Linked DNA regions of Homo sapiens: regions 2 and 3 are each reported to be linked to region 1. The links are microRNA targets in miRTarBase. Many come from high-throughput screens and were not tested one by one. Region 1 holds a microRNA gene; each other region holds the end of a gene's coding sequence.

Region 1 (3,256 bases):
TGTCCCCAGGGACCAAGTAGGGGCCTGTTGTAAGACCACACCTCATTGCCACCTGAGGCCTTCCATTGGTCCTCCGAGGCCCTGGCTGAAATTCGGCCTCTTCAAGGATCCCCCACTGGCCCTCCCACCACATCAGCTCCAGTGACAGCTTGAGCTCTGCCCTGCTGAGCACTCAGGAAGTGTGCTGCATCATGTCAGGGGAACCTCCAGCGAGCTCCACGTCATCCTACAGAAGGAAGAAACAGGTCCTCCGAGGGGATAAGGGACTTGCCAAGGTCACTTGCTTGTAGGCATAGAGCTGGGGTTTGAATGCACGACAGACTCTCGGTCCCCTGTGCCAGAGGCAGGGAGGGTGGAGGAAGGTGCCTCTGTCTCTTCAATCCCTCAACCCTCCCACCTTGCCCATTCTCCTGGCCAGGTCCCCAGGGCCAGCCTACAGGCTCCAGCGGGAATGAGTGGGAGCCAGCCAAGGGAGCAGTGTTGTGGTGAGTGGGGGGAGTGGGAGCAGGCTGGAGCCCCTGAAAGTGGGGCCCCTGGGAGCCAAGCCCTTTCCCCAGCCTGGCTCCTTGAGGCAGTGCAGCTCAAACCCGAGGGAGGGGGTCTGGCCCAGTGGCCCAGGGGAGGTCACTGCAACGAGAAAGCTGGTGGCAGAGGCTGGGGGCTTCCCTGGAGACCAAAGTGCCAGAGGCAGAGTTGAGGGAGGGTCTTGGGTAAGGACCAGGCCACTGCCCCTCCACCAACCATCCTCATTTCTGCTTCTCTGAGATTAGAAGGAAAAGGCTGGCTTGCTTTCAAGGGAGAAACCACGCTGAGGCCTGGGGGAAAAGGACAAGCACCCCAGGGACACAGCGATGCTTTGGAACATGTTTATTGTCATCAGTCTAAATTGTACAGACGCACACCGGACAGAATGCCTCCAAGCCGCAGAACAGGGACACAGCCGCCATCTCCCACCTGAGCCTCAGCCCCTCTCACGGGGCTGCTGAGGGCTGAGGGCCCATGCAGAGGGCACGGGGGAACGTGCTTGTAAAATGAAATGGCTACAGGGGGCTGCGGTGGTCAGCAGGCAGCAGCTGGGGAAGACACTCCAACCCCTCCGATGCCACAGACCCACTGGGCGCTCCCACGGCCCCAAGCTCTGAAGCCAGATCCTGAGAGGTGGCCACAATGGCATTTGCTGAGCAACAGAGGAGGCACTGGCCAGTGGTGGATGCTCTCCCGGGAACTCCACTCCCCCCACCTGGGTGGCCAGGGGACCTTGCTGTCCTGCTGCTGGCCCTCTTCTGGAACAGCCCTCCACAGTCACCTCCTGTCTCCTCACATCAACCCCCTATGTGTGCAGGTCGGGCTCAGAGAGGGCAGGTGACTGGCCCAAGGCCACCCTAGCAGGCCTCAAACCCAGGCCTGTCTGACCCATCTCCCAGGACTCCCCGCAGCTCTCTAAACACTGGGTGAGGAGGTGGGGACTGGAGGGGGACCCTCCACCCCAGAGGACACAGCAGGCCAGGCAGCACCAGGCAGAAGACCCCGGCCCCTGGCTGGAGGTGGGGACAGATTCGACCCTTTGCTGAGTCCCTCCCAGGGCCGCCCGGGGCTTCACACGCAGATTGACGCGCACACCTCTCCTGTGGGCGCTAGCTACCACGAGGTTCCAGGGAGGCTCCGGCGAAGGCACCTGTCATCATGGGCGCCGCTTCTCCTCTACCTGGGTGTAGTCTGCAAACTTCCTCCCCACCCCCAGTTCCTGTGCCTCGAGGTCCTTCACGAGTTTAGCGCGCACTCGTAGGAGCCGCGCAGCGCTCCCTAAGGCCTCAGTGAGTGGAGACGCTCCGGGGAGCCGGCAGCGGGAACCATCGGCCGCCCAGCAGGGTGCGGCTGCCGGCAGCCTGATGGGCAGCTCCCAGGAAGCCCAGGGCAAGGAGCGCTCCTCAACCCTACGGGCCCACCGCCAGTTCCTCGCTGGGAATTCCACGGAGTTTCGAGGTGCGGGCCCTCGGGGTGCAAGAGGGCGGCGGCGGCGTCTCCAGGCCGGCAGCGCGCCAGGAGCGTGGGCAACCCAGCGCGCCCCCACCCAGCGGTTCCCACAGCACAGCCCGGCCACGCCCGGCCACCTCCCAGCAGCACTTGGCTCTCCGGCCGAGGGTCTTCCCTGGCAGCAGGTGGAGCCAGCCAGGCCCTGGGGACTGCGGGGCGCGGCGCATGGGGCGGCCGACCTGGAGCGCGGAGCCGGTCCGTGGGCTCCCCTGGATTGGTCGCCGGCGCACCCCTGACTGTGACTCTGACTCCAGGCCGCGCGTGGGACGCTCCGTCGCTGTCGCCGCGCCCGCCGGGTCTAGTGGTCCTAAACATTTCACAATTGCGCTACAGAACTGTTGAACTGTTAAGAACCACTGGACCCAGCGCGCGAGTCCCCAACACCGTCGGTTCGCCGAGCTGCGGAGAGAGGAGCCCCCGACGCCCTTGGGACCGCCCGCGTCGCCTGCGGATCCCGGGGACCGGCCCCTGCGCCCAGATCCCCGCTGGTCGCGCACCCCCTGCCCTGCTGCAGCCACCCGGCCCCGACGCCGTACCGGACGCCTTAGACGCCCTCGCCTGGCGCTGGGGGATCCCAGCCGCCAAGCCCAGCCCCGCCGCGTCCTCGCTGGCCCCGGCGTCCCCTCGTCCCGCGGGCCCCGCGTGGCAGGGCGGCTGAGCTCCGAGCGGCGGTGGCCAGCGCGGCGGCGCCTTTTATGCGGCGCAGCCGCCCTTCCCGGCGCCGGAATGTGCCCGCGCCGCGCTGGCCCGACCGGTTTTTCCGGGCGGGGCGGCTCCCGGGCCCATAGGTCCCGCGACTGATCCTCCACGGCCCGGGGACCTGCTCCGCGCGCCCGCGCGGGGGTGGCCCTGACTCAGCGGCCGCCCCGCCCCATCCGGCGCCCCAGCCTCCAGCGCCTGGCCTGGGCGCACCTGGCCTCCCGGGTTCTGGGTCCCCGCCGGGCCACGCCCGAACCGTCTCGTCTGGGCCGGGGGTGCTCGGGCGCACGGAGGGCCCGGGGCTCCACCTTGGCCGGGTCGAGGCCCAGGGTGGCCGGAACAGGTGAGGACCAGCGCCCGACAGGAGCCCAGGGCCGCGCTAGCTCTCCGGTGGGTGTGGGGGCTGGGCTGGACACACCCACCCCAGCCCCTCTCACTTCAAAGGGAACTTCGTGGGAGGGGGAAGGGGAGGGGTAAAGAGAAAGTGAAACTGGAGGGAGGGAGGTTTCTGCTTCTCAGACCC
Region 2 (3,256 bases), not on the chromosome of region 1:
GCAAGAGAAAGTGAGAGAACCCAACGTGCTTTGGTAATAAACCCACTTGAGATAGCAAACACACTTCTGTGATGACATTAATCCATTCATGACCTCTGACCTCATGATCCAATCACTTCTTAAAGGTCCAACCCCTCAACACTATGGAATCGGGGATTAAATTTTCAACACATGAACTGTGGGTGACACATTCAAACCACAGCAGTATGAAAGCAAAACTTGTTCATTTGTTCGCACTTCTATTTTCAGCTACCTAGTCAACAAGTTGCTGGAAATCAAGTGTTTTTTCAGGAATGCTTAATGTCAGCATTACTTAGTGGTACACAGGATGTTTAAAATGTTTGTTCATCAGAATGTATCAGTTTTCTTTATTTTAACAAATTATATTTTAGATGATTTTTCTAGTTCATAGACAGCTTTTAATTTTAGAATAAAGCAACATGATTCTCAACATTGTTTCCCACTGAATGGCTTCAGAAATTGATTAAACCTACTAGAGTGGTTAAAATCCAGTGTACGGATAAAAAGCATACAGTATTTGAGAGCATGAAACTAAAAGTACATTTGAAAGGAACTTAATGTCAACAGCATCTAGTTATTAAAACACTCAACAGGTTTTATGTACACATTTTTACATCCAATATTACTTTTCTCTATCAATAAACCTTCTATCTGGAAAATAAATTGAGAATCATATAATTATATGTATGTGTAAGAGATGGGGAGAGAGAGAGAATGAGAGCAACAGGAGACTGTATTAGTGTGTATGAGAGAAACTGCAGGAAAAAATGTAGATGTATCAGGACACAGGCTATCTCTATATCTTGTTTTCATAAATGTGCATTCAAAACTCACATTCTATCAGTGAATCCAGCTGAAGAATATCAAAGTCATCTTGTGTTAAAATTACTTTTATTCAGGATGAAAAATACAATATGTAACCAGATTAGATGATAGTCTGTGATTAGTTCTTTACCACATATTTCAAAAGAACTACATACTTACTTCCCATTGTTACTGCAATATATTTCTTTTTATTTATTATTACTTAGAAGGTTACAATGTAGTGTTTTACGTAGCTTTTCTTTAATAGCAGATAGAGGACATTTTGCATACAAATACAGGCAGAAAAAAAATTAACACATGACTTTTTAAAGTAAGAACAAGGAAGACACCAAATCTACAACTTGGAGTTGAGAGCTCAGGGAATTGTTTTTTCTTTAAATAGGTGCTTTCTTGGGTATGACATGGCCTGATAAAAGCTCTAGACTTTGCAGACTGCAGCAGCATAAAGCAGTTTCCAATGCAATGGATGAAGATGGATCTGAGGTAGAAAGGTGGTCATGGCTTTCCTTTTTATATAAAACAATTTTCTTCTTTTCAAAATATCTCTGCTGCAAATAGACACCCTTGCCCCCCAACCCACCCAACCTATTCTAAAATAATAGCAATTTCTAACTTTAAGCCTCCTTCTGGCCAGATCCCAGCTAAAGAGAACCCAAAGTTAAAATGTCTTTATGTTTTTATGTCTTTAGGTTTGAATCAAAACATATTATTTTCACCTTTTTTTGGTTCCTCTACATTTGCTAATTAAGTAACATGTTTAAACTGAATCAATTAAATGTTAAATCAGAAGCTAAACCAAAATACATAATTGAATGCACTCAAAAAGATGTAGGTGGAGGTACCATCACCTAAGCATTAATTTCATTCTTCTGTAGAAGCAGTGACATAGACTTTTGATAAACATTCTTTCCAAATATATTGATCAAGTGAAGGGTATAAAAACATCTGATCTTTCACCCGAAAGGTAAAATAAGCCGTGCACTAAATGTGTGTCTGCTTTCAACAAGAAAACAACTAGGAGTTTCAAGAACTATTAAGGACTTGAAAATACAAAACAACAATAAAATTCTCTTTGAAGGGAACCAAAGACAATGATGTGTTCTGGTATCACAATAGGTAAAGGTCTGCTGTGCATGTAATGATGAAAATCAAGACATGGGAACTAGGAAAGGTTGTACTAAATTTTGTTTCTGTGTCAAAATGAAAATATGCTCAAGTGGGCAACCTTTGGTAATATGATCTTTGAGATTATTATAATGTAGTCTTCTTTATCAAATAGATTAAGACATAAAATAAATAATTAATTCCTACTTATATAAAAAGGGAATAAAATGCAGGAAAAATATCCCAAAAGAAATGCCATTTAGGCTTATAGGATTTTTATTACGGTTATCCAAGTGGTCAGCAAAGAAGTAAGTGGGCAACGTCAAATAAAGTTAAACGGCATACACAGGGCTGTAGCTTAAACCATATGTGTGTATATATAAGATATTTGATTGAAATTTATGAATTTATTAATGTGGCCAAATCACGGAAACAAATACATGGATCTATTTGGGATCTAGTTGGTTATATGGCTGATAAACATATGGCTGATAAATTATAAATAACCAAAACATTGTGGTAAAAGAGTCAAAGAAAAAATGAAGTAATTGTGCAAGGTTAATATGAACAGCAGAAGGAATGTAAAAATGTAAAGTGGTCTTCTAATTCTTATGTAAGCTTTGTCATAGTTATTAAAAAGACGGTATCATATTAGAAAGCCCCCACCCACTTTCCCAATGCTGTATACATTATACAAATCCGTGACAAATGTATTACCATTTCCAAATACCTCTCTGTTCATTAATTTACACTTGCATAGAAAGGGAAGAAGAAAACAATAATATATGGTTATTATAAAAACAAAATATCCATTTCTCTTTGGATAGTCAGTGTTTTACTCTTTCAGTAGAACACACAGTCAGCACTCAACATCGTGGGCCAAGGAGCCATGGAGCTTCTGATTTAATGGAACTTGGAATTGGCATTTGCTGAAAAGGGCAACACTGTACGTCAGGAAACATTGGTTGGCCGGATGAATACTTCACATTGCCTATGGGAAGGGAAAATAGCACTGTCAGAAATTTGCACAAAACATTACAGGAAGCAGAGATCTGTCAATTCTTCAAGAAAATAAAAGTGCTTCTTTCAAGAGTCTTAACTCTACTGTGACTTTTGCTTCCTGCAATGAGGTCCCTCCCTCTCATGCTGAAGTTACCTAGTCTGCTTTCTATCACTGCAGCTGATTTAGAGGGAAGTCTGAAAGTCTTTTCTCTTGGCCAGGCTGGAAGCAAAGTTAAAATGGAGAGGACTTCATTTCTTTCTGCTGAAGGTACCAATGGTGAGCGAATGAGGCTGGTGAAAATAT
Region 3 (3,256 bases), not on the chromosome of region 1:
TTAAAAATGCTGCTGAAAAGTTTATACATATGTGTCCGGCCATATATATCTTCTATCATTACTTAAGGCAAAATAAAAAACAAAACTGCAAAATAATAACCCAAGGAACCATTAAACCCTGCGTGCCTTTGAAGATCAAGAGTAAAAGCCTAGGACAGGATTTTTTTTTTTCTTACTTTTTTCTCATTTTTTTTCTTTTTTCTCTTTTTTATAGATAGCAAGTATATTTTTTCTCATAGAACTCTATGAAGATTCTATAACTTCTTTCCATGTAGAAATAAGATATCATTTAAGATGTACTAAAATCACTTTTGATCATAATCCCCTGTAAAAGCTAAAGTTATTCACTTAACAGGAACTCTGTTTTTCCTTATTCAAATGTCACAAGCCTGACGCGTTACTGTACATATTGCTAGCAGGAGACAACTGGAAATACTAAACAAATACTGGAATTCACATTACAGACAGACGAAACCAACATGGATGCCACACATAACTTCCTTTGTAGTTTCACAGAGAGCCTATTTGTGGTTGCTCAGGTGGGGTCATACATTGCTTGCAGAAATGGCCTGATCATAGCTCTATGAAACAATGAATTCGGAATGAAATCTTACCATGACACCTCTCTGTAGGAAAGAAATGTTGCTTCACGTGTGCTAAGTTGAGATAATAATATTTCACATATTTATATACAGAGAATCACTCTCAAATTTAACCCAAGATAAGCAATAGGATTTGGGGGTGACTTGTACGCATTTCTAAAAACACTTTTCTTTTTTCTAGAGGTCACTCTCAAACACTGATATATCACTATAGTTTGAGTGTAGGGATTCAGTAATCAAAGGTTGTTATTGCAAAAGAGCCAGGCAGCTGGACAATTTTTATGGGGAATGTCCACTTTAGCGGAGAGATTTAAGACTGGATTTCTAGAATAACCCACAATGGAGCCGAGGAACATGATCTTCAAATATCTTTGGCTACTGTTTCTTGGTAATGCAATAATTTTTCAAAAAAGTATCCATTGCTACTATGTTTCCTTCCACCTTATAACACTCAAAACTTTCCTGAAAAATGAGAAGAGAAATGAAAAAATGACAAGCTGTTGGAAAGACAAATCTCTGATCCCTAGGTCACCAATTTAAAATGGGTGAATAATTTCCATTCAATGTCTTCTCAGTGAAGTTATCCTAATTTCCCAGAAAACCCATGCAAAGCAGTTTTAATATTCTATCCTTTCTTCCCCCATTCTTCTATAATATTCACCGTTTGGTGACCGGATACACAAATCCACAAAAAGTGATGTTTTCAGACAATCATATGTTTGATCCCATAAATGATATAAAAGATTTTTAAAAACCTGCTTACTGATAAATAAGGGACCGAGTGCTTAAACAAAAAGGAAAGACACATGTCTTCCTTCAATCTGATTAGCTAAGCTGAGCAGGTACTTCATCGGCCAAACCCTCCCGCAGCTGCTAGGGAACACAGAGCCGTATTTACTCCAAGGGGCATAGCCCCACCAAAGGCAAGCTTTCTTCTTTTTTTGGCAGGGCCCTGAAATGGGAAGCAACTCTTCCTAAACATATTCAAAGGGCCAGAGCTACAGAACGGGACTTGTATTTTTGTTTCTCCCTACTGATTCTTTGTGTGTGCATGTCTCTAATTTAACAAGCTGTAAATACACTCCACTTTGGGGACCCATCTCTGTACTGCAATTTCATGAAGGCTAACACGTACAAGTCAAAAGTTTTTCAAAACAGTGGTCTCCTAAGAATGCTCTTGCATGCACCTGTGCAACCTGACGGGGGAAATAGGCCACACAGACCGTCTGGGTCTTCTGTGGGACATCACATCCTCCTACAAATGAGAATCTCATGTAAGAAAATCCCATGTCTTTGTTTACCACAAGTAATTAAGAAGAAAAGCCTCTTTTGTTGGGGAGGAAACAGAGGTGATATGACTAATGTGTGTGTGTGTGTGTATATATATATATATTTATATACGTACAGAGCACAATGAAAAGCACAACCTTGCTAAAAGCTCTTTCAAAGTGAAAACACCAATAAAAGCTTTTTTTCTTGTTTGTCTGTTTGTGGTTTTTGTTTAAACTCACAGCTATATACATTTTTCTTTTTTACAAAGTCTCTTAAATATAGTTCAGGCTGGCAAAACACCTCTTTGCACAGAACCGTACAGATTTCGCTGCACAGTCCATTCTTTTAATAATAAATTTCTACGTTTCCTTCTCTCTGGATTACAGCTCCATGTGCTGGGCAAAATCTCATTGACTCTTTCTTCACTTAAGGAGAGCCATCCATTGTGTGGCACAGAAAGAAATGTTTAAACTTCCATTGTAATTAAAAAATATCAAGTGTCCTTGGCTGAGTTTCAGAAGTGTCAGCTGCTTCCATGACGTTGGAAACACCCGGGGCCTTGAAATGGTGATGTCCTATCACACTAAACATCGATTGGAGTGGTAGAGATCTTAAAGCAGTTATTTTAACAGAAATGTGTACTTCTCACATTTCACAGGGTCAGAAGTTGATCTTGTAATACTGGAAAACACCAACGATAAGGGTCTGCCGGGATGGGATGACTGCCTTTTTGCATTTTTGTCTTAAGTCAGTGGGACAAAAACATTCCTGGTCTGGAGACTTTCTTTCTCTCTCTCTTTCCTTCTCTCTTTCCTTCCCTCTTCTATGTTGCTGAGCGGGTAGGGCAGAGGGATAGGAAGGGAAATAGGGCAAAGCTATACTCTAGTGGTGGAATGTCCGTGGGGTAAATTTGTACTGTTTTGTCCTCCACTGAAGGTGTTAAAAGTGTGCAAAGGCTGCATCCCCGTCAGTGTGTTTGGAATCATGGTGATGGTGTTTGGCGTCATAAGTGGGATGTCATCTGGCGACCGGCGCAGCGTGAGGGTGTAGTCTGGCGGGCAGGTGAGCCTCAGTGTGTCGTGTGCCTGCAGCGACTCACACTCGTGATCGTGTTCCAGCTGCTTCATCTGCAGAGACATGATCTCTTCGTTCTGGATGTGAGCGATATCATTTGTGGTGTTTCTCTGGGGACTGGGGCGCCTGTGAGTCTCATGGCGCCTCTTGTCCTTTTTGTAGTACAGCGCCGCAAAAGCTAAGATGTTGAGGAAGAGGAGCGACGCCCCGACGGCAATGGTGACACTTAATTCGGTGGAATAATCTCGTTTGGTTTCAATGAGGACAGTTGTGTCCTCAGGCCCTGTTTTGTGAGGGTCCTTAGAGTG

Evidence for each region. Region 1 holds the annotated microRNA hsa-miR-203b-5p (UAGUGGUCCUAAACAUUUCACA, at 2,334-2,355, shown strand). A microRNA usually pairs through its seed, bases 2 to 8, with sites in the 3' UTR of a target mRNA and lowers its output. Matches are read on the target gene's strand: a 7mer-m8 pairs with bases 2 to 8, a 7mer-A1 pairs with bases 2 to 7 and ends in A, and an 8mer does both.
Region 2: the mRNA of UTRN is a reported target of hsa-miR-203b-5p. Seed matches in the 3' UTR shown: 7mer-m8 at 2,544-2,550 and 7mer-m8 at 2,243-2,249.
Region 3: the mRNA of NLGN4X is a reported target of hsa-miR-203b-5p. Seed matches in the 3' UTR shown: 7mer-m8 at 1,759-1,765.

The regions. Positions count from the first base shown.
Region 1 is chr14:104,116,567-104,119,822 of GRCh38, reverse strand. It overlaps MIR203B (microRNA 203b), which reads left to right and starts at 2,320; the gene lies at 2,320-2,405. It overlaps MIR203A (microRNA 203a), which reads right to left and starts at 2,418; the gene lies at 2,309-2,418.
Region 2 is chr6:144,850,674-144,853,929 of GRCh38, reverse strand. It overlaps UTRN (utrophin), which reads right to left. Exons shown (of 75, transcript NM_007124.3): 75 at 896-2,941. The coding sequence ends at 2,933. Among named protein-coding and RNA genes, the nearest start is that of TRQ-TTG4-1, 330 kb to the left of the region's middle.
Region 3 is chrX:5,890,068-5,893,323 of GRCh38, forward strand. It overlaps NLGN4X (neuroligin 4 X-linked), which reads right to left. Exons shown (of 6, transcript NM_181332.3): 6 at 1-3,256. The coding sequence ends at 2,750. Among named protein-coding and RNA genes, the nearest start is that of LINC03070, 170 kb to the left of the region's middle.